2 linked regions of the Homo sapiens genome follow. The protein of the gene in region 1 interacts with the protein of each later gene in a biochemical or structural test. Each region holds a gene or a part of one and is shown in the gene's direction. Other genes may lie near its edges. The genes, in order: FGF14 and SCN8A.

Region 1 (16,577 bases):
AGCACTGGTGCCATCTGTTCATCTTACAAGGATTATTATTTTAGGAGTTTATACATGTCTATATTCCAGAGAGAAAGATTTTACATTGTAGAACAAGTTGGGACACATTTTTATTTATAATCTTAAAATATCTTACTTATAGACGTATTGTAAATACCACAGATTTTTGTTTCTATTTTCTTGCTTTTATAAATTTTGTACTAATGTTAAGAAATGGTAGCAAGCTTATGACTAATGTCAATTTAATTGACAGCTCTTAAAATGTGATCATTAATTGATTTGTTCTATGTAGTAATGAGAATATATGCCAATATGTCCCAATTTTAATGTGCATACAGTCACCTGGGACCTCGTTAAAATGCAAATCCTGATTCTGTAGGTCTGAGGTGGGCCTGGGATTCTGCATTTCTAACAAGCTTCCAGGTGATGAAGTTGCTACTGGTCCCTGAATACCACATTTTAAATGTACGTGCACACACACACACATGCACACACACACACAGACATCTCCTTATGTATATTTAAAAATTATGCACACATATAAAATACATATTTTAAAATATATAATACATATTTATATTGAATAAGTGAAAATTCAAATCAAATTATTTGATATTTAGTTATTAAATGTTATAAAACATGTAATAAATATAATGAATCAAAGTAACATATAATATTTAATAAATAAATTATTGTATCTAATGATGTGTTAATCTCTAAATGTTGAGAAATATTTTTACTGCCAAAAAATGCTTTAATTTTCCATTTTGTTTCCCGGGAAACTACTTAAGTAACAGAATTTGGCCCTATAAATATAAGTTGCTGTCGAGACTCCTTTGTTGGTAGAAATATACTTAAATTTCCTGGGTCCTGTAATCAGGATAAAAGTTGTCTCTCTCTCCTCTCTCTCTTTTTTTTTTTTTTTTTTTTTGATGGAGTCTTGTTCTGTCGCCAGGCTGGAGTGCAGTGGCACAATCTCCGCTCACTGCAACCTCTGCCTCCCAGGTTCAAGTGAGTCTCCTGCCTCAGCCTCCCGAGTAGCTGGGACTACAGGCATGTGCCACTACGCCCAGCTAATTTTGGTATTTTTATTAGAGATGGGGTTTCACCATGTTGGCCAGGATGGTCTCCATCTTTTGACCTCATGATCGCCTGCCTTGGCCTCCCAAAGTGCTGGGATTACAGGAGTGACCACCGTGCACTGCCAAAAGTTGTCTCTTAAACTCGTACATAATTATGCTTTTATTTGAGGTACACACACAACCAATTAACTAATTTTTTTTCTCCTGTGGGCATTAGTCACAGCCCAATATTAAAAATTTTTGACTACATACAACTTTATATAAATAAAGTACATTAGTCAACTTAATTTTCTGCTTTTGAGTGTTAACTACAAATATTTTGTTTCAACTTCAGGACTGTAAAATCTTTCTAAAAGTTCACGATATTCTTTTCTTTATAAGTAATCTTAAGAGTACTCTGCCTTTTTGTTTTAAAGAAGTGGTTAGTGTCAGAATAGTAGCATTAAAGGATACAATTGATTTTAAAACTGTAAAAGATGAAAGAGATTGGGATAAATCTCTGCTGACCTCAGATAAACTCTAGTAGATCAAATCTCCAAAATGTAGAAAAGGGAAGAAAAAAAATTGAGAATTCAGATTAAGTGGATCTGAATATGGGAATTCCCATCTAAAGGTATGTGTAATTAAGTTGAAATCTATTAAGAATAATTAAATAACAGCCTTCTTCATGATAACAACATTTGAGTTGCACTTTCAAACTCAATTTCTCGTTGTAAATATAACTACAGATTACAACTTAATTTCTAGTCCATAAATTATTTTTCACCTCTCTTATCTTATTTGATATTTGAAAGAACCCTTTGTTGTTTAATATTATACTCAAAGTAAGAACTTGGACTTGGAGACCTCCTCCTCCTTTAAGTTCAAGCCTCCTCTGAGGAGAGATACTCCTAAGGAGTCCAGGATGAGGGTCATTATTGAGCTGTTACTGGGAGGGGACTGAATTCGTGGATGACTCTGGAAAATAGAGGTTAGTAATATATTAGTAGCTATTATTTATCATGTATTTATTATGTGCTATTTGCTACTTGTGTCTAATATCGTTTCTCTATTTCCTCTTTTTAAGTTATTTTGGAATTGCCTAGTATTCTAAAAAATGTTATGATTGTGTTCAGAATGCCCCTTTTATAGTTTTCCCTTAAATGGTGATGGTGGGCAAACTTGAAGACATTAACAAAAACATAATTTTCATTTAGTCTTAGATAACACCAAGGTGACATAGTAACTAAGTGGAGTTGGTGGGCTAATTCCTAGTGGAAGCCTGGGCTCGTAACAGAACATAAAGGCTTTTCCAAGGATGAAACACTGGTGAAGCTCCTCCTTCAAGTTGTATATGTTTGCATATGTGAAAATATGTGCAATCCAAGTTTAACTTGGGAATGCTTAGCTCCTTAGGAATTTGCTACTGGGTTAATAACTCTTCCCTCAATTACTTAGGTTGGAAAGTCCTCAAATTTTACCTTAGATCAGGATTGGCAAACTTTTGGCAAAGGACCATATAGTAAACATTTTAGGTTTTGTGAGCCATAAAGATCTTTCTCGACCACGCAGCTCTGAAATTTGTAGTGTAAATGCAGACACAGACAATATATAAACAAAGGAAAGTGCCTGTTTTCCAATGAAACCTTATTTACAAAAACAGGTGAAAATTGTGTTTGGCCTGAGAGTCAGTTTGCTGGACCACTGGATTAGATTCTCAAGGTCACTTTCAATTCTGAGGTTATGGTTTTGCCAGATTATCTGAGTTATTCATTCCTGATGAGTTATGGAAGGAGAGCTCCTTCCAACCAGAAGTCTCTCTTTGTACAAGCAAATGGCCCATCACGGTATTTTCCTAAACAAAGGCATTTCCCTCAGAAGAGGAATTCTGCTGCTACTGTTAAGATAATAAGTACACCACAGATGGTGCTTTCATTTCAAAAACAACCACAACATAAAAAAGATATAACATTTCTGTTTAATTATTGCATTTTTCTATCCTATGACTTGATGATTTAGTTTGGCAGTGGTGCAAATTAATATTCAAGCTTCTGCTGGAACTCATCTGTTGTTGATTTTGTTGTGGTGGGGGTGATGGTTCTAAACATAGTCAAGGAGGCAAGGTGAGAAAAAGATACATCAAACTCCTTATCGATCTCGTTTTGGCAGATTCAAAGAGTTTATATTTAAGCCTAAATTTAAATAAGCATTTTCATATTATCACTGCCAGTTTTAGAGAGTGTTTCACTGGCACAATAATTGTATTATCCAACTGTATAGCAACTATCAATTAGACTAGGACTGCCTTGAGAAGCAAAGTAGGGCTCCTCTTTCTTTGGTTCTTGCTGCTGTACATTGGAGGTCTCATACTGAAGGCTCACAGGCTTCCCTGTGGCCCCTTGACCCACTCAAGGTTGAAAAACAAAAACTAAGAAATAGTTGCCAATGTTAAAAGGAGATTATCTGTAGAAACTTACATTTCTTACTTCCTTTGAAAAATCAGATCTTCTAAAGATCTAAGGTTTTTATTTTCACAGGAGAACCATGTGAGGGACGGCTGCTTTTTTAAAAAAATCATTGCTTCTACCACTGTCTTCATCTCCTCACCACAGAGCCTGAGTCAGAGGCCATTTATCCTCATTACGGTGCCATGATCATGCCAGCTTTCCTCACTCCTGTATCTACCTGGTCATTAGAGGCATTTGAGTTTGTGGCCCGTGCTGTGCACATTATCCCTGGAGATCTCATCAATTACAATTATTTCCACCTACTGGACTTTAAGTAGTTCTACCTATTGGACATTTTCAATGCAATCTGTTTTCCTAAAGCATACTGCAGGATTGAAGCACAAAGTATGACTGTGCAATTACTCTCAAGAGCATTTTTGTTTATGTTGGTCAATGTCAGTTTTTTAGGTCCCTTATAAGGAAATACCTTTTAAAAATTCATGCCAAGAAACTTTTCATTTTCAAAAAGGAAAATATTTTCTTTCTTGAATAATTTTTGTAACATTATAGTCTTTCTCTTTTTGTCCTGGCTACCAGAAAGTTCAGAAGTCAGTGTGTCATAATCCTGATATTATTTCTCCCCTTACTTTGTGTGTTCTGGTTCTCTATTTGTAATATTAATACTAACTATTAACGTGAACACACATATACTCATGTGCTACAAACAACTTTCAGGTTCATTTTGTGAGAGATTAGGGTTGAAAACATCAGTACGACATGTTCTTAACTTTTCGAAACCATCCTCCACACTGACAACAGATTTGTATTTATAACATACGAATCAGGCCCTATTATTATTCCCTTGCATATTCAGGAATTCAACATGTCTTCCTCTCACTTATAAGACATCTAATTTGTTTATTAGAGTTTTCAAGACCCTTTATTATGTTTCTCAAACCTATCTTCCCATCTACAACATTCTCCACTTCTGTCCCACAAAGCGTGTATCTCAGTGATGAACTATTTACAGTTCTCCAAATGTACCAGGCCATTTCCCACCTCTTGCCTTTCACAATACCATTTATTCTCCCTATAATCACTCTAGTATTTTATAGGTAAGTCACTCATAACAAATATTATATTGTTCTGTCATTTTTCAGTGAAATGAATGACTATTATTTATCTTGGTATATTTCATGCTGAACCCAATATTTTGTGTAAAATGGTTTTCATTGACTAATTATGTAGCTGACTTTTGGTGAGATTTTCACAGAATTGAAATAACTGATCAGGATATATTTTTTACTACAAATAATGAGAAACTTTTAAAGAATAATTATTGAGTGCTCACTGTATACCAAGTTCTCTTCTAAATGTGTAATACGTATTTATTCACTCAATCATCCCAACTACCTTATTGCCCTATGATTTTTGTCCTCATTTTAGAGATGAGGAAACTGAAGCCCAGAGAGATTGAGTAATTTCCCCAAGAACACACAGCTAGTGGGGTCAGGGTTGAATCCTACTGTCTGCCTCCACAGGTGATGTTTATCTGCTCCATTGCTTCCCATTTACGTGTTGAAAGTATATCACTTATGACATCAAATAGCAACTAACCTCAACTTCCATTGGTTCTATCGGTTCTATAGGAAATGCTGGGATTATTTGAGACTTCAATATTGGAGGAACAGATTAAGTTCTCAAAAAGTTTTGAGAAAATGTATTAGACAATAACATCTTTGAATGTAACATGTGCATTTGTGTGTGCATTAATTATTTAGCCACAAATAAGAAGGCTGAAAATATACCAGTCTCCACTATCACAAGCAACTGAAGGCAATAGTTCTACAGAAAGAATCACCTATCTGTGAAGTCACGGGCACAGCTCACAGAAAGGTGCTGTGGAATTGACTTCTTTGGAGTCCTATGATGTGAACATTTCATCTGAAAAGATATAGTGTCAGAATCCTTAAGGTATCCACCGAGAATAAATTACTTCCTCTACATCAAGCATCTTCTTCTCTTCCATATTCAACACAGTGAATTCATAATGGAGACAATACATCCCTAAGTTGCTGATGGTGTTGCAAGCACCATTCATGTTTTGGACATTATGGCAGTGACGATCAGAAGAGAATCCTGTGGACCTACGTTTCTGGTGTTTGTAGCAACAGGATGAGCATCAGTGAGCCAGGTTCTGGGCAGAGACACCCGAAGCCCAGGAGGCAGAGCCAGATTCCCCTGACTTCCACTAAGTGACCCACTAAGTCAGCTCTCAGCATGTCACTCATAGCTGATTTTGAGATAGGTTTTTAACTGGTAAGCAATATGCTTAGGTGCCCTGCCCTGTCTCAGTAAAAAGACAAGTGAAATGCCAAAGTCTAATCCTTTTGTTTGAGAAAGTATAGTTTCAACCAATATATTTATTAGTCTCTTGGGGAGAAGCCAGATTTATAGCATTCCATTTTGTTTTACTCACAATAAATGCATGAACATGTACTGTTTTATCAATCTTTTTTTTCGGGCGCATGGCCTGGACATTGACTCAGTGGACTCTCATTTATTAGTGAGAAAACTAATTGGAGGATATATGGAGATGCAGAACTCAGTAGAAAGCCAGAACATTTATTTGGATGGGATCTTATTCTAATCTGAGGTAGCATCATCAAGAAGAAATAAAGATCTACATAAGTTGCTCCAGGAGGGGGCTAAACCTGTCATTTGGCTATTGTGATTTCATCAAATTGATCACTGTAACTGTCATCTTTGTCTTGAAAAGCATCTGCCACTAACAAAGGCTGTTCCCCTTGGAAAACTATTAGCTCTCAGTGAATGAAAGTTATTCAGCACACTGAATAAATTGTCTCCTGCATGAGACAGCATTTGATAATTCACACTTTTATGGGGAATATTGAAAGGAAATTTCTACATGACATTAGGTCACATTCCTAATTACAGTTAGCATAAAGTCAAGCCCTTAATGTTTTAGTTTTTAGCCCCTAAGGAATATTTTTCAGAACAGGTATACAACATTTTTAGAAGAAAACCAAAAATTATTATTTTCTGCAATAATAAAATCTATTAAAGAAAAATGAAAACTTTGTGTATATTTTTTAGTCCAGTGGTATTTTCAAAAAGATCAAGGACAGTAAGGATCTATTTTCCATCTATATTTTATATACATATAGAATAGCACAGTGTTGGACCTATTTAAAACTAGCTAGGTGTCTTTCATGGTCTATAACCAGACAGGTTGAACTTCAAATTTATTTTTAATAGAGGGCTATCAAAAATGCATATGTAGATTGTACCCTTATTAATTTTTTATTTATTTGGCATGGGATTATATTCATTATTATTCATCCCAAAGTAAGAAGTATATAAAAATCATCTGTGAATATTTCTGACATTAATAATAATTGTAAAGTAGTAAGCTTTGTGCTGCTCATCAATTAATGCAGACCATGGCATTGAGCATAATAGTATTTAACAAACTGTATGCTTTCCAAAAATGCTGTGTGGTTTTTCAGTTGGAGCAGCTTTTGATGTTTATCTTCAAGAGTTCCAACGGGACTCAAACCTTTGGAGCCCCATTGAATTATTTTCAGCTACTGTCACTATGACCAGCTAACATGACACCTAACCTCATCTGGTTATACAATAGCTCTAGTGGCTGGCAAGTAAGCCAGCTGATTGTCTAAGTTTTAGTTTGAGGTTTCAGTTTGTTCCTTTGTAAGTAAAATGTATCACCCTGTGATTTCAGTGATCCAAGGAGCAACTGGCAACTGTAGAGTATTATATCACTGTTCCTATGGAAACATGTAAAATGGATTATAAAATATCTGAAATGTGTATTTTATTTGGTTCACTTTATTGTGAATATCTGATGCTACTTTAATGCTCCCTTTCTGATTATACTCTGGTTGAATTGTCTTCTGTTTAAGTTAAATCTTTAGTTTGCTCATGTATTGTTTTCTTATGATATACTTTTGCTTCTATATATTTTCAATAATAGTAGGTTCTTCTCAATTTATTGTATATTTTAAAAATGTATAGACAATTACTGTGCGCAGGAAGGGGTATATCCGGTCCTCCATGCCAAAGCACTCTTTCACCATGCTGGGAAACTTTCTAGAGAATGAGTAGAATGTACAGTGAAGATCAAGTTCCTTCCTCTAACTTTTGTTTCATTTTCTCTCCACAGGAACTTTTTACCCCTGAATGCAAGTTTAAAGAATCTGTTTTTGAAAATTATTATGTAATCTACTCATCCATGTTGTACAGACAACAGGAATCTGGTAGAGCCTGGTTTTTGGGATTAAATAAGGAAGGGCAAGCTATGAAAGGGAACAGAGTAAAGAAAACCAAACCAGCAGCTCATTTTCTACCCAAGCCATTGGAAGGTGAGTATTATGCATGCATTATTATTACATAGACTTATTACATATTTTATTTTTCAAATTGATAGGTCTACCATGGCTCTAAGAAACCTTCACAAAGTGCTGGAAATGTCATTTATTTTGATCTAGGTGATGGTTGCACAGGTGCCTACTTAAGTTATTGATTTAGAATTTGTGCCCCTTATACACTTTACTATATTTGTGTATGTATGTGTACCAGGAAAAATTTCTTCTCTGCCACCTCCAAAGGCTCAAATCCTCACTGCTACAACCACTCTAACCCTTAGATAATTTAAATTAATTAAGTTAAAACAATTTTAAATCTGTAATGATACAAATCTGCGATGATAAGTATATTAGAAAAAGATAATAAGTATATTAGAAAAAATAAGTTTTGAGCGTGGAATCAAAAGTATTTTCCATTTTGATATTATCTAGGTGAAAGTAATTACCTACTTGTGGATTATTATAATTACAGAAAAATAAGAGATAATAGCTTGACTCTTAAAGAACTTGCTGATATTACACATCTGCTTTCAAATTGTGTAATTCTTCACTGTATACATTTGTAGCATTACTTCTTTTACTAAAATAATTTATCCACATTCATTTGTGTGCAGGAAGGGGTATATCCAGTCATCCATGCCGGATGAATGGAAATTTCACATTTACTCCAATCAGATACCCAAAGAGCAGGCTACAAAGTTTTTTTAATTAATCAACAACATCTGCACCTCTCTCATTAATGATTCTGCCAAAAGTGTCATTTACTTTTATCTATGTAACATTTGAGAATTACAAAAATATTTGATTTTAGGATATTCACATGTGTTTCTATTCAAGTTCTTTTGTTTACTCTTTTGCAGAAGATCAGATCTACAATAACTCAGTAAATATTTTAAGCTAGCTTGGACAGCTCAATTTTCTTTTTGTGTTTTATTCCTACAGGAAAGGCTTAGCCATCACGAGAAAATGCATATTGTTTTCATAATGCATATTCTCTATATTGAAATAAAATAATTTAAAAATTTGAACAGTCAATTCTTCATCATCTGTGAGTGTATAATTTTCAATTTGCCTAAATTCAGAAAATCGCTCTTGTTGGCTAATACTACTTCTGTAATTTCAATGATGTTGACTTAGTGTCACTCTTAATTATATTTTTCTGTAGAACAATTTATTGAAACCCAAACAGTTAGCTACCAGGGCCTATACAGGAAAAGACAGATTATTCCAGAGTCTGAAATATGAGTGAATTATTCTCAGTATATGGTGGATCATAAGGATGATTAGAGTAGAAAGAAGTTAGAGGATTTCCCTGTTCCTCCCAAAAAAAACACATCCATGATACACTTTCATTGTTTTAAATAAATTTTGATAACATTGGACTCACCTATATTTAAATGCAAATAAAAAATTAAAAAATAAGCCCACAGAAGCTCTAATAAGACCATTGTTTATTTGCCACCGTGCTTTATCTCTTTTCACTCATTTTATGTTTTGTAAATAGTTAAGAATTGACTAGATTTTTAGAACCTTACCCTTTAGCTGCATAAATGTAACAAAACCCAAAAGGGCTGTTATGTCATTTAACCGAGGTAAAATTTGGGAACCAGTTATTTTGCATATCTCATAGAAAATATCTGAGACAACAATGATGTGGTATAGAATGATACTTGGTATTTCACTCATGTATTTGTTATGTGTATATGAGTGTTTTGTGTGTATATATACATATATATATATGAGAAAGAGAGAAATAATACTTTTTATGTTTTCAAAAAATTAGCAGAAGTACTCTAAAAACAGTTAAGGGGGTAGGTACTATAACGACAGAGATTATCACATTGTTTACTTGATAGAGGAAAATTAATTTCAAACTTTCAAAACCCATACCGAATATAAATAATGTTATTGGAAATGTTTGACAAATTAAGTACCTGGTTAATTATTGGTACTCTAGGGCATTCATATCTTTGTTTTATATATATATATATATATATATATATATATATATTTTATTATTATACTTTAAGTTCTAGGGTACATGTGCACAACGTGCAGGTTTGTGACATATGTATACATGTGCCATGTTGGTGTGCTGCACCCAGTAACTTGTCATTTACATTAGGTATATCTCCTAATGCTATCCCTCCCCCATCCCCCCACCCCACAACAGGCCCGTGTGTGTGATGTTCCCCTTCCTGTGTCCAAGTGTTCTCATTGTTCAGTTCCCACCTATGAGTGAGAACATGTGGTGTTTGGTTTTTTGTCCTTGAGATAGTTTGCTGAGAATGATGGTTTCCAGCTTCATCCATGTCCATGAACTCATCATTTTTTATGGCTGCATAGTATTCCATGGTGTATATGTGCCACATTTGCTTAATCCAGTCTATCATTGTTGGACGATACAACTTCACTACATAGAAAATCAAGGTCAATGCTTCATGCTTTTGTCTGCTAATTTAATTAGTAATAGGAGTGAGGGATTGGAATGTGCTTTCAGGATACGCATTAGTTCCTTTTGCTACCTTAGCAAGTAATTTAATAGAAACCTTATGTACATTTGCACTTTCAAGTATGTGTGCTGATGAAAACTCACGTGATGCATTGATACTAAAGGCCACATTCTACCCCCTTGAACATAGGGAATGCATATGGTAGTTCATCTTAACTAAATCTAAGGGCTCTTCGTAAAATACCTTAAACTTTCAAAAACCTAAAAAGCAGTTTGGGCAGCTCTAATGCACTTGTATTTCTGATGGCAGATGACTTTAATCCCTAGTTTTCCCCAACCATCAGTCACTCTTATATGTCCTTTCTCAGGACTTCCAGAAATCATTTTCTAAAAAGCCACGTGAACTACTATGATTATGCCACCAGACACTATTTAGATAAATCCTCAGAGTTTATTCAGGTAGTTTCAGTTGCTGTCTTGCCATTCTGTTTTCTGCCCCTGTATCATGTCAATTATTAGATTTTTAATAACATAGCAGAAAATGAGTTGCCTTCTGCTGCCCAAGGGTCTTTTTCCATGATTGTAGGAAATGAACATTGAAATGATAATCTCCTGAAGGCTCTGGCTTATGGGAAGAGAGTTATTTGTTATTATTTTGTGTAGCTTTGAAGTTGACACTAGTATGACTATGTTGCTTTTGAACCACATGAAAGAAAGTAATTTAATGTTCTAGGATGTAAATACCGCAGCTCACAAAGATTGATTGAAGTGAATGAGAAGTTCATGTGTTGATATTAATGTGCAGTGGAAGGGATGTCTGAGTTTTCTTTTTTTGAGAATTAAGTTAAATGCCTGTCATTCTCCTATAGTGTGTGTGTGTGTGTGTGTTTTACATCATGGACCCACAAAGAGGCCATAGCTCCCATTTAAACCTGCTGTCCTAGACAAAAATCCATGCACACTCATATACATATTTTAGGTATACAGACCAGAGAATGTGAAGGGAGTAATGTCCTCTGTGGGCTGGAAATGATTGCTTTACAACAGGAATTCTGTCTCAATGGAATTGCTTTACTTCAGGGAAAACAGAAATGGGCAAACTGCAGTGGTCTATGCAGGTATGGATGGACCATTCTCACACCTAACCAAGCAATGTTTGCTTTTCCTCCTCCTTTCTTCCCATCACTAGTTGCCATGTACCGAGAACCATCTTTGCATGATGTTGGGGAAACGGTCCCGAAGCCTGGGGTGACGCCAAGTAAAAGCACAAGTGCGTCTGCAATAATGAATGGAGGCAAACCAGTCAACAAGAGTAAGACAACATAGCCAGATCCTCACAGGTGTTGTGACTTATTCGTCCTGAGCACAGTTGAGTGATTTATCCTCACCAGACATTCCTGCTCCGTGGCTGAAGAGCAGCAGGAAGTAAGCTAATGCTTATTCTTTGCTGTCTCCGAACTTCTCTGTTGCAAGTGGATAAATCTCAACCTGTTGCACCCCCCACAACAAGAAGACACCTGGATAACCAGCTAAACTCAGACCATGGAATGCCCTACCAGATATGGAATGCCTTTTTAATATCTTTTCTGTGACTGTGACACTTCATGTGAATGACATACTTCACAAGTACACTCGATACCTTGCCTGCTGACAGCTACCCATAATCCTTTTTGAGTCCTGTTTCAGCGAAATCTATGTGTTTAAGTTCAATTTTGTAGCACACAAATAATATTGAGTAATTTCTAGTTAGACGCTGTAAACCTGTGCTATTACGGATTTCTCTTCTTCCCATTTTTACAGGGCTGCTCGCTCCACTGTCTGTGACCTTTTGCAGGGATTTTGTTCCTCTAAATCTTAAATGTTGCAGTTGGCTTAGGTCGGAGAGCAATCAGGGAATCAGGAAGCCTTCTAAACCTATTATTACAAATTGCATCTATAAAGAAAGATTAAGAAAGATTGTTGTCTCTGGCTCACACTATCGATTAAACACACATATACGCTCTGTCCAGTAGCAGATACTGTGCTCCCAAGGTCGGCATTGCCTGGGTGGGAAATGGCTCAAACACAATCCAGGGAAGCTCTCTATGATATGTGTTTGACATCCCCCTCTAGTTTCTTTGTGTGTGTGTGTTTTATACATATCACAAGCTTACTGGTAATGGTAACATTTGCCTTGCCCAGCGAGCAAGACCCACTGGTTTTTGAGAAAGTGGGTCCAAAGATTTCTGTAGGCCTTGTAGGCCTGATTAAGGTTCATTTTTCATCTATTAATTCTCATTATTTGGAAAAAAAAAAAAAGGAAAATCAGTAATTATAACCTACAAGAATTGCGCTACCTAAATCCATTTCAGATATACTCCGTCCTGTTTTTAATGAACCAAACTTAACGCCATCCCCGTTTCTGGCTGCGTTCCCCTCATACTCAGCAGAGCATGGGCAAGACGGCTGTTGTGTTCTTTCCTGCAGCAGCAATGCAAACGTTAGTTATAAATTAATTAGACTTTAATATTTTTGGTGTTTAATGACAAGTTTTTAAACTGGACATATTAGGAAAAATATTTTTTTTAGCTCAGCATGCTGAGTCCGGTACTGTGTATTTCACCAGTACATGCCTCTAGCTCAGCATCTGGGGCTCATGTTGCCCAGTGGCTGGGTTAGAGGTGCCTTGCCATGATCTCAGAATACAGTCTGTTGAATTATCCTAGATGAAAATAAAGGCAAACCAACACATTCATCCATGAGGATTTTGGTCCATTCCATTTATTTTCTTTTATTTTGCATTCTTAATTTCCTTTTTAGTTTAACACTGTTTGTTTGAGCTTAGGGAAGACAACTACCAAGAAAGGCCAGGAACAGTTGACTACACAATGAAGATTCCATGCAAAATGTTCAATATTGGATCTAAAGGGGTTCAAAATGTTTCATACTAAACTGTTTGGGAATTTATTTGTTAACTCTGTGTACACCTAATAAAATTCAATGTTTTCTTCTCAGAAGAGTTCATTGAGACCAAACTGAACCTCATTTATTGAAAATTATATGTGGGATCAATGTACTGGCCTCTTGTTATTCTTTCTATGTGGGAGGATGACCCAGTCATCATTTTCCCCATCTGCACTGTATTTATTGGGAAATTATTTTGTCACTGCTTTCATAAATCTTCTTCATGACAGCCCTTGCCCAGCATTAAAAAATTCTGGCCTGCTTAGCTGATTAAAGGTTTAGTAGAAATTTAACTGTTTGTTTATGCTTATTTCATTTTCATATTGGATTCTACTTGAATAAATAAAAAGTTAGCAGAACGTTTGAGTAGATTTATTGCCAATGATGCTAAATTACAAATCTAACAAACAAAATGATTCCTTTGGTCATTTTTGATTTGGTGTTATGTCATCTTGAAGCCTATTGTTTTTAACAGGAACAGTTAAAATATATTAGATAACTTCCATTAACCAATTATTTTCAGAAAACATAGATCCCATAATATGTGGCCAACTATATGAGTAATTAACTAACTTGTAATACAGTCAAATGGGCTTATGGACACTACTTACAGCAGCAACACTTCACTTCACACAAACACACACATATACACACACACACACACACACACACACACACACACAGAGCAAACACCCCCATCTATTTGTTACTGATAATTAGCCCTACTTGCTGGTTTCTTTTTCCCCTGCAAGTCTGTTTATTGGTTTAAATTAAGACAAGATTTATTTTTGTAAATGACTGAGATTTATGTAAATGTGTATCTCTGTTGTGTTTTATATATGGGGTGTCTATAAGGGCATTTATCCCTATGAAGGATGTCAAATACTTTCTTCTAATATATGTTTAGACATATTGCAGAGGGGTCCTTGTTATTTGTAATTGAGTTAGGTCATTTACTTTGTGTCTGGTCTCACCTGTAGCATGGGAAGAGGACAGCAATGATGAGCTGCATGTAGTAGGTACCTGTGTATCAAGAACTGTTGGTATGTATTGCTAATTTGCATACAAAGAGTTTGTCTGTCTGCATTGTAGTTTGTGTTTAATATCATTTGTTAAATTCACAAATACAACATATTGAATAAAATATTTATATGAAGGCATATTAAAAAACATCAAACAACTTTATGTAACAAAATGGCATTGCATTACTCACCAATATAGAGAAATGTCATGTAAATAAGTTGGTAAACTCAATTTCCCCCTTTACCATGCCAAAGAAAATTTTAGCTCTTTGATGATACCTCTCTTGCTATTTGTTTGGGATAAGACTTCGCCATTTTTTTCCCCTCAGAAATTAAGTTTGCTGTTATTAAGTAAGAAGTGCAATCTGTCACTACTGATGTTCCGTATAGTAAATCTGATGGAATTCATTTGTATTTAGACTGTGTGTTTTGTACCTCCATGTGCATATGTCCATTGTATCAAGTCTCTATAATACTCCATTCCTTCTGCATGCATATCTGGTGTGGGAGGGTTATTTCTACTGATTTGTTATAGTAGCTGATTGCTTTGCCAGTCCCTCAACAACGCTCAGAAATGTTGTTTTGGTATTTCAAGTGACAACATTTTTGTTTTCTAATATAAGATTGCTTTTTAAAACATTTTGCTACCACTTTACTTGGAAAAATTAGAGAAGACATGACAATTCTCCACCCTATGTAAAGAGCAAAATGGAACTGAACATCATTTCATTACAAATCCTGAAGAATTTGGAGATTCTTGCTCTAAATGTTTGCTTGTCCTGAATGTTTTTGGGTAGCAGTGGCTTAAAGAGATCCACGATGGGTCCAAAGGACTCCCGCTCCAGTTCTTCTAATAGTTTGCCTCTTGGGGAGCAAGCAGAAGTTCTTTATCATACCTAGCCACTTGCTTAATTAATGCTTTAAGCACTAAAAGTTGTTATTTTTATCAGGATGAACAATATCAGATTTGGTTGTCTTTAAAAGCAAAAACCAAAAACTTATTCTTTAAGTAAGTTAGACACGTATCACTTCATTTAAAATTATCTCCCTAATATTATGGATCATTAATATTTGATACATATTCAAAAAGAGACCACATTGACTAACATCCAGTTGAGAACAAGATGAAAATAATTGAAATATTTTTTCCATTTTAATTCAGAACAAGGCTATATCAAGGGAAAGCGACTGGGCTAAATCCTCAATTTTTTTTTCCAAAATGCAGGCATATCAAAATCCAGGATGTACATGGTCTTACTTTGAGTGAAATAGTAGTCATAGCTGAGGTTTCTTAGCCTACAATGTGACATAGGGCCTGTTGACTCTCTTGAATATGGAGTAGGGTTTCAAAGTGTTGACAGTTGAGTCTGCAAACTAAGGCTGAGTTATATTTTAGTTTTTTTTTTTTTTCCTGGTTTTCACTAAGTCTAATTCCAATGTCTACTGGCAGAGATTGTGTTTGCATTTGAGGTAGTGGAGGGCGGTACTTTCCAAGTGCTGTTGGAATCCAGATAAACTCAAGGAGCCCAGAAAGACAACGGGTATAATGGCTCTCCTCTTATGACTTAGCACTTTAGTTGACTTTTTTGAAAAAGTCTCTGGGTGGAATACCTCAGTGATGATGATTTGCCAAACAAGCAGCGTTAGTGCCAACACCTTCTCTAAACTTGCTGCATCCCTTCCAATTGACATTAATCCCACTGCAACTTCCTAAAAACAGGAATGAGCCAATGAGATTTGCTTATTTTCTCTCACCCATTACAAGTAAGTTTGTTCTTGCCCTGCTTGTTTTTTAGAGGGAGTTTCTATCATAGAGTTGAAAATCACATTTAAGAAGGAAAGAGTTTATGTCTTTACATGTAACTATTTTATTTTTTCCAATCTAAATTCAATCACTTCTTAATAGATATATTGGTGTTTGCATTGCTGGCATCAAAACCACACATACACACACAAACACACACATACACACAAACATAGTGGACAGAAATAAGTAAAAATATTTCTGTTTTCAAAGAAAAAGCATTCCTTAGAGTTTAGGTACCATTAACTTCTACTATAATACAGTTCCGGTACTATGGTTTCTAACTAAATGAACACTAGAACAGAGCTGACTATATTTTCATCTTTGTCCAAAATTTTAGATGAATCACATTTTGAACTTTTTATGGTATGATAATTTCTCCAATATCTAAATTCTTTTTCTGAGAAAACAAATGCCGAGGACATTTTTGACACTCTTCTTA
Region 2 (16,577 bases), on another chromosome or scaffold:
GCAGTCCAGTGGAATGCCCGGAGTCTTGAAATGGGACACTCCCACAGACTGTCCAAGAAGTCTGCTGACTGGCTCTGAAAGGTGCCTGTCAGTGGGCACATGCTGTGACTGGCTGACACAGTACCTTGGCCATCAAGCAGAATTTTAACCCTGTCAACAATATCATTTAGATATAAGCTTGATTTTAGTAGCCAAGAGTTAAGTAACAAGAAATATGTCTTGATAATTTTTATTGTTGATGTTGGTGGTTCTGTTTTCCCTGTAGAGTTTTGTTTTTCTCAAAATCTTTACTTTTCCTTACTTTTTACAGAACCAGTCTTTGATTTTCAAGGGATTTTGAGAGGCTTTTTCACCTATCCCCACTAGAACTCCAGTCAGACCAGGCTAGCAAATAATGTTATTTTTCCTTTCATGAAAATTTAGAGATTTAGGATGACATCTAAATTAGAATTGTAAGTATGCAGAAGACTTTGCTCAGAACCATCAGTAAAAAAAGAGGAAATAAGAGAAGGTCAACAGCTAATATTCAGGAACTCCATGAGACAAGCCAACCCAGAACCAAGTTCTAGAATAAGAAAGCTCTTAGGTGGCAAGGGTTTTCAAACGGCAAGTAAATGTACAATTAGCAGTGGGGAGGGAGCTTAGTATATAGTCCAGCATACTTTGTACTAGATGTGAGGGTAAAAGGAAAGAAATCAAGAATGGTGCCTCGATGTGGGGGTTTAATAACTGAGGGAAAAGTGGAATGACTGCAAAGGAACTGGCTTGACGTATAAAATCAAGAGTTCTGTTTTGGACATATTAAGTGTCTATTCACTGAGTGGAGATGCCAAATAAGGAAGTTGGGTACGTGCTGGACCTCATGAGTGTTTTCTGGACAATACCAGAAACTCAAAGATATACTTTGTTGCCAATCAACACGAGCGCTGAGATTGGCAGAAAGAACACAGAATTGGAAGTCAGAAGATTTGGGTTTTCATTCCTATTAGATATCGTATAACCTTAAATAAGTCATTGATTTCTGTCCAGAAATGTTTCACATCTGTAAAGTTAAGATAATACCATGCCATCACTGGTTGGGAAGATAAAATGAGAACCTATATGGAAGTCTTTGGGATAGCTAAAAGTATCTTATAAATCTTAGGAACTGTGTTAGTATAATTCAATAGGAGAATTTTCAAAGATTTGGAGAATTGGGTAGAGGCTTTGACTGAACCTGAGAATAAGAGGATGGAAAAAAAATGAGACTGACTTGTGAAATAAAGTATGACCTTGTCCTGTGGTTGGAATGTGAGGCTTTTCCTATAGCCCTAATTGTGAGTTAAGTTGTCTTTGTCTGTAGACATACAGAAAGATGTTTTTAAAGAAAGATGAGAACAGTCTTCTGCAAATTGAAGATCCCTGCCTCTTCTACCCTCCCCAAAAGAGAAAATAATAGTAGGAAGAACCTTAGAGATAATTCAATCCAATCCACATGTTTTATAGAGGAAATTGAAGCCCAGGGAAGCTGTGTGACTTATACAGCCTCTATGTTATGTAGTAGATAAATGTAATGATTCTTTTCCTGCCTTTTTTGCAACTAACTGAATACAATAGTAAGTTTATGAGGTGACTTTTTAAACATTCTGAATCTTACAGGAAAGTTTCAAGTACAGTACAAAAAACTTCTTTTTTTTTTTTTTTTACAATAAAAGCCTTATCACATAGCCTTATCACCCCCAAATGCTTATAGTGTGTATTTTTTATACACAAGTACATTCTCCTACATAACCATAGTATAACTGTCAAAACCAGGAAATTAACATTGATACATTACAATGTTGTGAAGTAAAGTATGACCTTGTCCTGTGGTTGGAATGTGAGGCTTTTCCTATAGCCCTGATTGTGAGTTAAGTTAAGGGTCTAATTCTCAGGCCCTATTCAAGTTTTGCCAGTGATCCCAGTGGTATCCTCTGTAACAAAAGGATGCAGTTTTAGGATTACCCCATTACATGTAGCTATCATATCTCTCTAATTTTCTTCAGCCTGGAGGAGTTCCTCAGTCTTTCCTTGACTTTCATGTCTTGACATTTTGAAGACTACAGGTCATTTGTTATGTAGAATTCCCTCAATGTGGGCTTGTCTGATGCTTCCTTATGATTAGATGCAGGTTCTGCATTTTGGTAGGAATATCAGATAAGTGAGACTATCTTCTTCACGTTGTATCTACCAGTTGGCATGTAGCTTCCATTTGTCCCACTACTGGTGACGTTCATTTAATCACTTGATTAAGGAGGTGTCTGCCAGGCTTTTCATCTGTGAAGTTACGCTTTTTCCATTTACAGTAAGTCCCCACTTAACATCCTCTATAGGTTCTAGATTTTTGGAAACTGTGACTTTAAGCTAAATGATATACTGTATAACAAAACCAGTTTTACCATAGGCCAGTTGATATAAACAAGAGTTAAGTTCCTATGGCATATAGTACATCATGTGGCTTAAAGTTGCTGTTTTCAAGAACCTATTGAGGACATTAAGTGAGGACTTACTGTATACTTAATAGGTATTTGTGAGGAAGACCATTTGAAACGATTTAAATTTCCTGTTCATTCAGATTTTGATTTCTTCCTTTATTTATATCAGTATGGATTAATGGTTTTCTATTTTATCTGAGTTACAATCCATTTGATGTTTAGACTTCCTCTGATGTGGCCAGTGGAAATTCCTTCAAGCTGGCTTCTGATCCCTTTCACATGTCTTCTTCACTTCCTGGCTTTCTGGTACCACAAGGTATTCCAGGATACTTTCGTGTTTTTCCAGCCCCAGGGCTGGAATCAGCCATTTCTCAAGAAGCCCTGAGTCTTTTAGTGGAAAAATGGCATTTAGAAGTAGAGATCTAGGCTGAGTATCAGCTGAGGCAGGAGGATCGCTTAAAGTTTGAGACCAGCCTTAGCAACACAATGAGACCCCATCTCTAAAACAAAATAGAAAACTAAAAAAAAAGGAAGAGGTGGAGATCTGAGATCTAGGTATGCATATTGCTATGGGAGCAGCATGCAGCCCCTCTTAGGACATGATGAGCTATTTATATTGAGCTAGCCGTGGATATTGCAAACCATGAGTTGATCCTGTCACTTCCAATTCTAATCCAACACTTCAAGATTCTTTCTAGTTTTCTCCCTTTCTGTATTTGTAACTCCTGCAACAATAAGAAACCTCGTTGCCACTATCTTTGGTATACTTATTTGATCAAAAAGCCACTGTTACCTTTTATAGCATGGGTACCCTCCTCACCCTGTATAGGCTCTGGGTGCCCCCCACCCCTTCAGCACCCGAGCCGTGTCCTCCATGTGGACACCTGCTCACACTCCTCAGCTTGGAACCCACACCAGTCCAACTCACACATGGTTTGCCCCACCCTGCTTAGACCCCGATGCCTCACAGTAGGCCTTCGCCTGCATGGACATCCTTCTCACCCCACACCAGACTCTCCCCTGACATAGAAGCTCTGTTTATCCTGCACAGACTCTTAACACCCCTCACCAGGCCACCCCTCGTCACCCTGCTCATGCTGCCATCTGTCTGTGTGAACACTCCTGGAAGTTCTCACCTGGCCCATTGACTTTATCCCAAACTAGGCGACATCCTCCTCACCCTGATGAGCTCTCACACCCTCACTGTCCACCTCCCTGTTTGGACACTTTCCTCACCCCACTCGGGATCTGACACCCCACATCAGGCCTTCCCCTACATGAGTCCCTCATCAGCTCACCTGGCTCTGGCACCCCTTGTGAGTCTTCCCCTGCAGGGAGTCCCTCCTCAGCCCACTCCGGGATCTTCTCCTGGAGATGCTATCTTTACCTTACTTAAGCTCTGACTCTCTCTGCTAAGTCCCCCACCCCCTCAAGTGTGGACGTCCTCCCACCACACTTGGGCCTCAACACCTATGTGGGGTAGCCACGCCTCATACCACTTCCAACTGCCCATCCTAGACTGTTGCCCAAAGCGGATGCCTCTCCTTGGCCCACAGGCTCAGACAGCCCATGCCAGCCTGCTGCCCTGCATGGACCTCCTCGCTCCCCTCCATGTCTGACTCTCCTTGCTGGGCCGTGCCCTTCCTGGGGTTCCAGCACTGGGCAGCAGCCTCCCTCTACCGGCATGCCCACCTACAGCCTTCAGGACTGAGTGGTTCAGGAGGAAGGGGATGGAAAGAAGAGCTAGGGTTTAATCTGACATATAAGTTTAAGTTCTCAGATTCTAAGCAAAAGCAAAAAAGCAGAAAGTTATTTTCCTCCTTCACCAAACATAAATGAATGTTATCATTTCTTAATTATAGGTTACCTAGATTTTCAGCTAAAAAGAATTCTTTTCAGATTTTTTCTTTCATCTGTGCTTCTATAGCCCCATATGGATACTTCTTTTTAAATACTTGTCACATGATTTTTAGTTATTGTTCTGTCCCCTCCTGGTTGGGTAACCAACCACCTTAATTTGCAGAGGCCTGAGGAAGCCCTTGCAGTTTTAAAACTGGGACAGTCCTTGTCAACAGGTACGAGTTGATCACCCTAACTGGAGATGCAGGATGCAGGACTTTCGGTGTGAAAAGTGGCAAACCAGGATGAGTTACTTACATTCTGGCGACTGAGTTCGTAAGGAACCATTATTTTTCATGGTCACATTTTTTTTTTCATGTCTCCATTGCAGTACACATAGAACTTTTAATCAAATTGAACTTGATTAACTTTGGGCGAGGATCTACTGCAGAACAGGAGCTGACAAGCCCTTTTCTGAGCACAAAGAGAGGAGCATGCCAGACGCTCGTCACTTTCAAATAAGGCTGAATTTTTTCTGCAAATGCAATGAGGGCTGAAGGAGGTGTGTGACTTCTCCCCAGACCCCATAGTGACGCCAAAGTGAAATATACCCCAATCTTAGGACTATATAGGCCTTACTTGTTGACCTGGCATTACAAGTTATCAGGCATATGACCACAGGCTAGTCCAAACTAGACTAGGCATGGCTCATGCCTGTCATCCCAGCTCTTTGGGAGGCCGAGGTGAGAGGATTACTTGAGCCTAGAATTTCAAAGCTGCAGTGAGCTATGATCATGCCACTACATTCCAGCCTGGGTGACAGAGCAAGACCCTATCTCAAAAAACAAAACACAACAAAACCCAAACTAGAAAGATATGATGACTGTGAATTCAGAGTATTTTATAGAGAATAGAGAACCATTGTTTTATAGAATATTCTGAGGAGATCAGGACTCCTTTATACTCTTAAATAAAAGTGCTATGTCTATTGATATTTATCATGTTTGAAATTAAAACTGAGAAAATTTCTAAACATTCATTTTGTAATTAAAGAATTACAATAATATAGCTAGGTGAGTCCCAGCTACTTGGGAGGCTGAGGCAGGAGCATGGCTTGAGGCCAGGAATTTGATGCCGAAGTGCTCCAGGAACACGGCTGTGAATAGCCATTGCTTTCTAGCCTGGCTAGAACATAGCGAGACCCCATCTCTACAAAAATAAAAAAATTAACCAGACATGCAGCTCATCCCTATAATCCCAGCTACTCAGGATGCTGAGATGGGAGGATCACTTGAGCTCAAGAATTCAAGACTATCCTGGACAACATAGCAACACCCTATCTGTAAAATAAATATCACAATAATACACCTATCACACATGAACATAAATAACATATTGGTGTGGGGAAACTATATTTTTTAAGAAAAACTGGAAGAATGGCATTGTTCGACATTTTGCAAGTCTCTTTAATGTCTGGTTTGTTTGTTTGTTTGTTTGTTTTGTTTTTTGAGGCAGAGTCTCACTCTGTCGCCCAGGCTGGAGTGCAGTGGCACAATCTCGGCTCACTGCAACCTCCGTCTCCCAGGTTCAAGCGATTCTTCTGCCTCAGCCTCCAGAATAGCTGGGATTATAGGTGCCCGCCACCATGCCTGGCTAATTTTTGTATTTTTAGTAGAGATGGAGTTTCACCATGTTGGCCAGGCTGGTCTTGAACTCCTGACCTCAAGTGATCCACCCACCTGGGCATTCCAAAGTGCTGGGATTATAGGCGTGAGCCACCGTGCCTGGCCTCATGTCTGGTTTAATAGAAGGTAGTTAGATTCTCTTTTTCTGTTTCTACATTCAGTCTGTTGTGATATGTTATTTTAGCTAAAGTATAGGAAGAAAAGCTTGCCTCACACAGATATGTACAGTAGTCCTCTCTTATCCAAGGGGGATACATTCCAAGGCCCCCAGTGGATGCCTGAAACCTCAGATAGTACCAAGCCATACACACACACATACACACACATATACACATACATGTATGTATGTATATGTGTGTGTGTGTGTGTATATATATATATACGTGTGTGTATATGTACAGCCACGTACCACATAACAACATTTTGGTCAATGACAGACTGCATGTCTGACAGTGATACCATAAGATTATAATGGAACATATATAAAAACTTGTTATATGCCATTTGATATTGGCCTTGCAGGTCAAGTAAGAGAAATGATTGATGTTAAGTAAAGGTGCTGGGACATTTGGTTTTCCATATTAAAAAATATATATATATAAATGAAAATATATATATAAGGCCTAGGTTTGTGTAAGTACACTCTTTAATGTTTACACAATGACTAAATTGCCAACAACACATTATCCCTATCATTAAGCAATGCATGACCATACTGGGTTTTGTGAATCTGATAACCAAGATGGCTGCTAAGTGGCTAAAGGGCAAGTAGTTTATACAGCATGGATACACTGGACAAAGGGATGATTCACATCCTGGGAGGATAGAGCAGGACAGCTCAAGAGTTCATCATGCTACTCAGAACAGTATGCAATTTAAAACTTATGAATTGTTTTTCTAGAATTTTTTATTTAATATTTTTGGACTGTAGTTGATGGTAGCTAACTGCAACTGCAGAAAGCAAAACCACAGATGGGGGGTACTTCTGAAGTTGGAAAAGAGCGGACCATGTGCTTCCTGAGAGGGCCTTAGGGACTCTAAGGATCCTCAACTACCCTTTGAGAACTGCTGCATAAGAACATAAATTCTAAAGTGAATATTTGATGACATTCAGGAGAACAACACTGTCTAAGTAATGTTACCACAACAGAGTACCATAGACTGGGTAATTTATAACAGACAGAAATTTATTTGGCTGACATTTCTAGAGACTGAAAAGTACAAGGGCATGGTGCCAGTACCTGGTGAAGACCTTTGTGCTACATCATCCCATGGTAGAAGGCCAAAGGGCAGAAGAAGCTAACAGTGAGAGAGCAAGAGAGGGCCAAACTTGCTTTTATCACAAAGCCCACTATTGAGATAACCAGCCCACTCCTGCAATAACATCAGTCCACTCATGATGGCAGAGTCCTCACATGACCTAATCACCTCTTATCAGACCTTGCTGCCCAACAGTGTTGCATTGGGGATTAAGTTTTAATACATGAACTTTGGGGGACACATTCAAACCATAGCAGACACTTATATATAATTGCTGATACACTGCATGTAATTCTTCCCTTTCTCCTCTTTGAGAAGCATATCACAGTGCAAACAAGAGCATCATAGGATAACCTTAAATCTGCTCTTCTCAATTTTTAAAAAAGCAATTCCTTCACACAGCTAATAGTTATAGGTGTATTTTGACACACACCCAACTGATGGCAACATACCATGTGTTGAAGCAACATGGTGGCTGACCTCTGTCACAGACAATTTCTAATGCCTGGGGCCATTCATCCTGGTGATAGGCAACACCACATAACTATGTCATTGTTGATTTCCCTTAGGAACCAGAGTTCCCACAGTATAGATATTCCATGGTCAATCAGCCAGTGCTTCTTCATGAGCACTTCCTGTGTGTTTACCAGGAACCAGTGGGATAACAAATCAAGTCTCTACTTAGTGTGTGTTAGGCAGGCTAGCATTTCTATGTGGAGAAACCTCCGATGGGTTTACACTAAGGGTGAAATGTATGTCAGGATTTGATGAGCTGTCTGTACTTTCCCTGAACTCACTCAGAGGGATGTTCCATCTATAGATGCTTAACTTGTATTATGAACTTTGATTTTACTTAACTGGATCTCTTTGTGGAATTTTTTTTTCAATTTTAGAATATTGCATCTTCAATCTAGAAACATGAGGAACTACAGAAAAGCATATGAACACCGAAAACCTATAGGCCACTTATCCATTTTGATGTATTTTAGTCATCATTCTGTTTTTTTATTGCTGTTTATTAATTCAGTATATTTCCAAACAGCATCTATAATCTAAGTATTTTTTACTATTTTTAATTTTGTTCTCAGACTATATCTTCAGTTTTCCTTAAACTGTTTCATGTGGAAACTTGGTAAACAGGTAGTTACAAGTACTAATATATTATGACAGTTTTAAATCTATTGTAAAAATAAGTCCTCTCCTCTAAAAACATAATATTCAATAAGAGTCTGTTGTTATATGGTTAGCCTAGAATGAAGGTATTGGTTTTGTCAAAACCGGCATTCATGGGATTTGACTTTCATCCTGCATATCACCTCCTAATGCCTGCAGGATATGGAAGTCATCGGGAAGTGCAGGCACTCTGTCAGCAGAAAAATGGGAGATGGGTAACATAGGGAAGATGTCATTTTTACACACAATAAGCTACAAATCTAAAACATTTATTATGTCATTGATTATCCTATTGAAAAAAATTAAAAGGAAGCACCGAAGTCTCCAACAATAGGAAAATTCTTTGAGGATGTATTTACCCAATAGAATTTTATTCACTATTTATTTATTTATTTATTTATTATTATTTATTTATTATTATTTATTTATTTGATAGGGCTTGCTGTGTCGCCTGTGCTGGAGTGCAGTGGCATGATCCACTGCCCTCCAGGTTGGCTCACTGCAACCTCTGCCTCCCGGGCTCAAGTGATTCTCTCACCTCAGCCTCCTGGTCCCTGGTACCATAGGCGCCCACCACCACGCCCAACTAATTTTTGTATTTTTTGTAGAGATGGGTTTTCACCATGTTGTCCAGGCTGGTCTCAAACTCCTGGACTCAAGTGATCTGCCTGCCTCGACCACCAGAAGTTTTGGGATTACAGGAGTGAGCCATCATCCCCAGCCGCCAGTAGAATTTTATACAGGCAGTAAGAGTGAGAGTTGGGAGAACCGTGTAGCAACATGGATAGACTTAATGATAAGTGAAAAATCAGACCCAAGATATTATGTATTCTATGATTTTCCAACTCTGTCAAAATACCTGTGTATTTGAAAAAAAAAACAGAAAGAAAATACATGAAAATGATAGTTGTATGCAAGGTGGTGAGATTATAGATATTATTTCCTATATTTTGCACATTTTGGCAATATTGTATGCTTTTACACCTTGTGGCAAATGTCTGGGTTTGGTAAGATATAATGTCAAATTAGCATTAATACTTTATTTTTCTAATCATAACGCGAGTGATTTTTTTAAGCAAACATCACAAGTATTATATACATTCAAAATGACTGCTGACCCTTTGAAAGGAGTTGCCTGGTGTAGTATTGCCATTGCTTAGCATATTTTCTCAACTGCACTCTTGAAGAGTTTAAATTGAGTGGTTCTGGCAACAAAGATGGGAACTTTGGGGCTGGGGACTTCATTCAAGAGGAGAATAAGATTTTCCTGCATCAGGTGGGGTGCTCATGAGACATCCAGGTATTGATATCTTCAGATGCAGAATTTAACTAAGGTTAACTCTTGAGGTTTCTTGGACATGTTGTTTTCAAAAATAATGATAAAGGCATTCTCTTTCTACTATTTATTTTTCTTACCCCCTGCATCCCCCTATTTAGGTTTTCACTGGAATTTTCACAGCGGAAATGTTCCTGAAGCTCATAGCCATGGATCCCTACTATTATTTCCAAGAAGGTTGGAACATTTTTGACGGATTTATTGTCTCCCTCAGTTTAATGGAACTGAGTCTAGCAGACGTGGAGGGGCTTTCAGTGCTGCGATCTTTCCGATTGGTATTCCATATTTCTCCAATTTCTTTTAACATTTCCTATCTTGCAGCTACTAGAAAGAGTTCTGCATAAATTAATTTGATGATTTAAAAAATATATTAGCTGTATTTTACTCCCAATTCCAGTTATTTGGCTTAGCTACTAAAATACTAAAAACTTTCCTAAAATACCTGATATGGAAGTTAGTTGTTAAAAATCAATAAGCAAACAGAAATCAATTTTAAGAAGCTCTTTAGAAAATGCTGCTTAATCTAAGAGATGTCTAAGATGATAAGTGAAAAATAAGACCCAAGACAATAGATGAAGAAAATGAACTCCCCCAAGGCCCAGTGTGAGGTCTAATTTGGGTTTGCTAGTGAATCTATTTTTTTAAATCTGAACATCTCCTTGAAATGGCAAGAATTTCTCCTTGTTCAAAGATGACTTTCTTCATTTCTTCTGTCATGGTAGCCCTTCCAAAAAATGAGAATAAAATAAGGTTTTTAAATACAGATGGTTCCCAACTTATGATGGCTCAACTTATAATTTTTCCGCTTTACATTCTGCAAAAAAGCAGTGCACGTTCAGTAGAAACCATACTTTGAGTACCCATACAACCGTCCTGTTTTTCACTTTCAGTATAGTATTCAATAAATTACATGAGATATTCAATACTTTATTATAAAATGGGCTTTGTGTTAGATGATTTTGGCCAACTGTAGGCGAATGTAAGTGTTCAGAACATGTTTAAGGTAGGCTAGGCTAAGATGTGATGTTCAGTAGGTTACGTATATTAAATGCATTTTTACTTACAGCAGTTTCAACTTAAAATGGGTTTATTGGGACATAACCCCATCATAAGTCAAGGAGCATCTGTATTATATTGAAATTAGTTGTTGAACATTGGCTTTATTTTCTCTATCATTAGCTAAAAAGGAGTTTGTATTAATGTATTTGAAGAAGTTAGTGTTTAAGTTACTCTTAATGACTTAAAATGACTCTGAAAGAATAGTTAATGGTATCTTCAAAACAGCTGTCCGTAAACATAAGCGTAAGTGATATCTTGATTAACTCCTCGAGAAACTGAGTTATCCTGGGGGTATCCCACTCAGACAAAGGTCACTACTGCTTCCCTGGCATTAGAATTGGCTTGGGTTTTTCACTCCCTATTGGGAAGATAAGCACTTGGCAACTGAAAAGGTTTAAAGTTTCTTCATTGAGATATTCAGCAGTTCTAAGAAAGAACTGGAAAAAGTGAAACTATTTGTAAAACAGAGATTTCACTCAGTCAAAGTCACAAATAACTGCCAAATTTTTGAAACCTCTGTTTACTACTCTTTGGTTAGGATCCAGTCCACAGTGGACTTTTTTGAGAATAGTTATTACCTAGGTGACAAAAGAAAGGATTGAGAGTAGCCTTAGAACTTATATTCTTAATAAATTAAAAAGCCACTCTGTTGAAAACAATATGAGTGGCCCAGATGTCTGCATATAGGGTAACACCTGGTAAATATTGAACTCTCTGATAAGATAACTTTTCAATTAAAAAAAAGTTAAAATTGTGCTGTTGCCTTCTACCAAAATTCCTATTACATTCTATGTTAGTTATTTGTTAGCATATGACATCTAATGATGATCTCATAATTATAATTTTATTGGCCACACTGCCATAGCCTTTATGCGTTATAATTCTCAGGCTGGGCCAGGCACAGTGGCTTACACCTGTAATCCCAGCACTTCAGGAGGCCAAGGCGGGCGCATCACTTGAGGTCAGGAATTTGAGACCAGCTTGGCCAACATAGTGAAACCCCATCTCTACTAAAAATACAAAAATTAGCCGGGCATGGTGGTGCACGCCTGTAATCCCAGCTACCTGGGAGGCTGAGGCAGGAGAATCACTTGAACCCAGGAGGCGGAGGTTGTAGTGAGCCGAGATCACGTTGCTGCACACCAGCCTGGGCGGCAGAGTGAGACTCTGTCTCAAAAATAAATAAATAAATAAATAAAAAATAATTAACACTCTGTTAGCCAAGATCTTGTGATTATTTATTACAGAATATAGATATTTCATGATTGACAGGTACTAAAAGTTCTGTCCTCTGAATAACAGTATAGGCTCTTTTCTTTTTTTTTTTTTTCTTAGACATAGTCTCATTCTGCTGTCCAGGTTGAAGTGCAGTGGTGTGATCTCGGCTCACCTCAACCTCCACCTCCCAGATTCAAGTGATTGTCATGCCTCAGCCTCCCAAGTAGCTGGGATTACAGGCCTGCACCACCACACTTGGCTAATTTTTGTATTTTTTATTAGAGACGGCATTTCACCATGTTGGCCAGGCTGGTCTCGAACTCCTGGCCTCAAGTCATCTGCCTACCTCAGCCTCCCAAATGCTAGGATTACAGGCATGAGCCACTGCACCTGGCCAGTATAGGCTCTTTTCATAAGATGACTGATGTATGTGGAACTGCCCCTGTTTGAGAGTTGTGCTTTTCCTCCAAGTTATTCCAAGCATATCACAACGGTTTTTTTTTTAATCAGCCATTGATTATTTATTGGCAAGCAAAATAGGTATTTAGAATTTTTTAATGTTTGCTTTTTTAAGGAGATGGATTTTTTTTTAAACTGTCCTTCCCATACTAGTCTTTTGGTTTCCTACAAATCACATTTTATTTCACTTGTCCTGTGAGAAGTCAAGGGAAAATTAGTAGGAAAGGGATATGTTCATATGTGGGTTTTCAAAAAGCAGACTGACTCAGATCTAAAGTAAGGGACTAAGGCAGTATTCCTGGCTTCTAGTTACAATTTTTTCAGCTACTCTGAAATTAATCAGTTTTCCCTTATTTATGTCTCAGTTTCTCCCCATTTAGTCTGAGACACTGTTAGACAGTCCTGGGAATTTTCCAAGGGTGCTCAATATATTTAATCTGATCTTCCTAATTTTATGTTTTTATTTTAGCCATGTGGTGAGAAAATTGATTGAGTATCATTTATTTTTTTGTTTGGGTTTTTTTTTTCCTTAGCTCCGAGTCTTCAAATTGGCCAAATCCTGGCCCACCCTGAACATGCTAATCAAGATTATTGGAAATTCAGTGGGTGCCCTGGGCAACCTGACACTGGTGCTGGCCATTATTGTCTTCATCTTTGCCGTGGTGGGGATGCAACTCTTTGGAAAAAGCTACAAAGAGTGTGTCTGCAAGATCAACCAGGACTGTGAACTCCCTCGCTGGCATATGCATGACTTTTTCCATTCCTTCCTCATTGTCTTTCGAGTGTTGTGCGGGGAGTGGATTGAGACCATGTGGGACTGCATGGAAGTGGCAGGCCAGGCCATGTGCCTCATTGTCTTTATGATGGTCATGGTGATTGGCAACTTGGTGGTTAGTACTAATTTGTAGATATTTTTGTTCTACACCCTGAATATTCTACCCCTGGCCCAGAAGCCCAAGTCCTTCTACTGCTTAGTCCTTCTACTACCCGTCATGTTTGTTGATTTTTATTCTTTCTTGGCCCAGAAACCCTAAGGTACAAATGAAGGAGAGGAGAGAGATACTTACAGAGTGCCTACTTAGTCATGACCCCCACAACTTGTCAACCCTTTTCCTAGAGTTAGGAAAGCAAACTCAGCAAAATTAAGTGACTTTCCCAAATAAATATAGGGCTTGTATTTGAACCTAGACTTTAAAGTCTGTGCCCGTTCGCCTACAGAAGCCTTCCTTTTTCTTAACGACAATTTCTCATCTGTGGTGCTATTGACATCTTGGGCTGGATAATTCTTTGTTGTGGGCTGTCGTGTGCATTGTAGGGTTTAGCAGCGTCCCTCCTGGCCTCTACCCACTAGATGCCAGTAGCATCCTGAGAGCTGTGACAACCAAAAATGTCTGCAGACATTGCCAGATGTCCCTGGGGGGCAAAATTGCCCTCCATTGAGAGCCACTGCTCTAAACCATCTTAGAGTTTTATTTAATTTATATAAATGACAAATCACTTTATTGCTTTACTTTGATCTGTCCACCTGCTCTCTTCTACCTCTGTCTTTAGAAGAGTCACCAACAGATCTTAACACCTTGCTTCTTAAAGTGTGATCTGAGGACTAGCAGCAACAAGATCACTGGAGAGTGTGTTAGAAATGCAGAATTCTAGGCCCCAAATCAGAACTACTGAATCAGAATCTGCATTTTTAACAAGATCCTTGTGTGACTCAAAAGTACACTAAAGTTTGAGAAAGGACTATCTTACAGATCAGGCCCCTAATCCCACCTGCAAGTGTAGGGCAAAGAGGACTGGAAGAAGACAAGCTTATCTGTCCCTTAACATGCTCATCCACATTAGTTCTCTTCCTTTTTCTGCCACAGAGAAGCATGACAGTAAAAGGCTCCTACTCACCAGCCTCTGAACCAGCTACAACTATTCTGTTCTTCCATTTGACCTACAAAAAAAATAGCTACTGTAATGTTTAATTCTTCCTATTCTCCATTCCCAGCCACCTTTCCCTCAGTCCTAATCCCTCTAGTCTTCTCACTACTTCAGTGACTATAACAATGGCTTCCCGGTATGTAGCATGATCAACATTTTCAAGCCCTGACTTTGCCACCCTTTCTTCACTCTCCTGTTCTTATTTGTCTCAAAGACATCTCCCCATGGCTGTCTCCAGATACCTGAGCACTTGATAAATATCAGCTGTTACCACTACCCCCTGATGACACTTTTCAGGTTCCCCTTTGCTCAGTAGTCCTTCTGCCCATCTAGTTTCTAGGAACCTATAACTTTGGAGTATTTTCTGTCTCTTTTCTCTCCACTCCCAGCAAATATCTGATGTGTCTTAAATGCATCTTTCTTCATAGTATTTCTGTGGATATCTTTCTTCATAGTATCTAAGATCTGCCCCTTCCTTTGCATTTCTATAATTCATTCAGTACTTTATAAAAATGTGGTCTCAAGACCACCTGCATCATAATTACACAAGTTTCACTCACAAAAAAAGGCCAAGTCCCAGGCTGTATACCAAATCTACTGAATCCAAATATCTTTAGAGTAGGCTAAGGAAATATTTTTAACAAACATCCACACCCCTCACTCCCTGAGATTCTAATGCATGCTAAGATTTGGGATTTCTGTAGCCTAATCCAGACCCTTATCAATTCATGCATGTAACAGCCTCCTAACTTCTGCCCTTCCCCTCTGTATGTAGTTAGTCTGAATGACTCTTTCAAATCTCTGTCATCATCTGTGACTCCTTTACTCAAGAACCAGTAGTGGATCTAATTAAATAAAATTCAGATCCCTCAGCCTGGCCTTCAAAGCCCTCTCCAACTCACCCGCATTTTACCAACCATATTCCTTTTTAACTCTACAAATGGTGCAGATAATCCGAACACTTATAGTTCATTTATTGTTTCCACCCTCCCACTCTGCACATGACTGTTATCTCCTCCTAAAATGTATGCCTTACTCTTCTTCCCAAGTATGACAAAGTAAGGACCAAGTGTAAATCAAGAAGTGAGCACCTCTCCCACTCCTAAAAAGTAAGTCTTAATAAAAATAAATTAATTAACCTTAATGTTCAATGTAGTAAAATAGGAGATTAAAACAAAAATAAATAAAGCTTGTATCTGATGGCTTGACATTTGGCTATGCAAAAAAATATAAAAGTCACCATCACTGTCTTGCTAAAGCGATTTTATTTTTATAAATGTTAGGAAAACAAAATTTGTTCTTAAAATATGATGACATGAAGTGTATTTCAGTTCTACCTTCTTGGTTTTTTGTATGAAAGGATGGCACTTCAAGCCTCATTTTTTTTTCTGACGTGGGTCCTCTCAAACTCTGCTCATGAATATGTGGCATCTGTACACTTTGTGACCCTCCCCAGTAATGTATATTCACCTTTTTATTTTGGGGAAATGTCCTTCCAAAATGGATACAGCCTTTGTTTTTTCTGATTATAAGAGAAGTAATATATTTTCGGGTACATATATATGTATGTAAAACTATAAAAGACCCAAGAAAAGAGGTGCTAAACTCCTTGTATTACAACCAAAACCAAACACATTCCCACCTGGTAACATGAGCATTAAAATACTACGTGGGCCAAACACAACACAACAGAGCCTCTTTGAGTCTGTCACGTGAAGTCCATTGGCTTCCAGTTTGCAACCCTGAGTTCGATGGATAACTTTTCTGCATTTGTTCCTTTTTTCCAATGCTACTGGCATAGGTGCTGAACCTGTTTCTGGCCTTGCTCCTGAGCTCCTTCAGTGCAGACAACCTGGCTGCCACAGATGACGATGGGGAAATGAACAACCTCCAGATCTCAGTGATCCGTATCAAGAAGGGTGTGGCCTGGACCAAACTAAAGGTGCACGCCTTCATGCAGGCCCACTTTAAGCAGCGTGAGGCTGATGAGGTGAAGCCTCTGGATGAGTTGTATGAAAAGAAGGCCAACTGTATCGCCAATCACACCGGTGCAGACATCCACCGGAATGGTGACTTCCAGAAGAATGGCAATGGCACAACCAGCGGCATTGGCAGCAGCGTGGAGAAGTACATCATTGATGAGGACCACATGTCCTTCATCAACAACCC

What was found.
Region 2: the proteins of FGF14 (region 1) and SCN8A form a complex in vitro, tested with the Homo sapiens proteins (2 studies listed by BioGRID).

What each region holds. Positions count from the first base shown.
Region 1 is NC_000013.11:101,717,946-101,734,522, reverse strand, and holds part of FGF14 (fibroblast growth factor 14), read left to right. Parts: intron 1-7,712; coding exon 7,713-7,911; intron 7,912-11,555; coding exon 11,556-11,692; 3' UTR 11,693-16,577. UniProt on the Homo sapiens protein: Probably involved in nervous system development and function.
Region 2 is NC_000012.12:51,752,656-51,769,232, forward strand, and holds part of SCN8A (sodium channel protein type 8 subunit alpha), read left to right. Parts: intron 1-9,847; coding exon 9,848-10,021; intron 10,022-13,015; coding exon 13,016-13,372; intron 13,373-16,209; coding exon 16,210-16,577. UniProt on the Homo sapiens protein: Pore-forming subunit of a voltage-gated sodium channel complex assuming opened or closed conformations in response to the voltage difference across membranes and through which sodium ions selectively pass along their electrochemical gradient.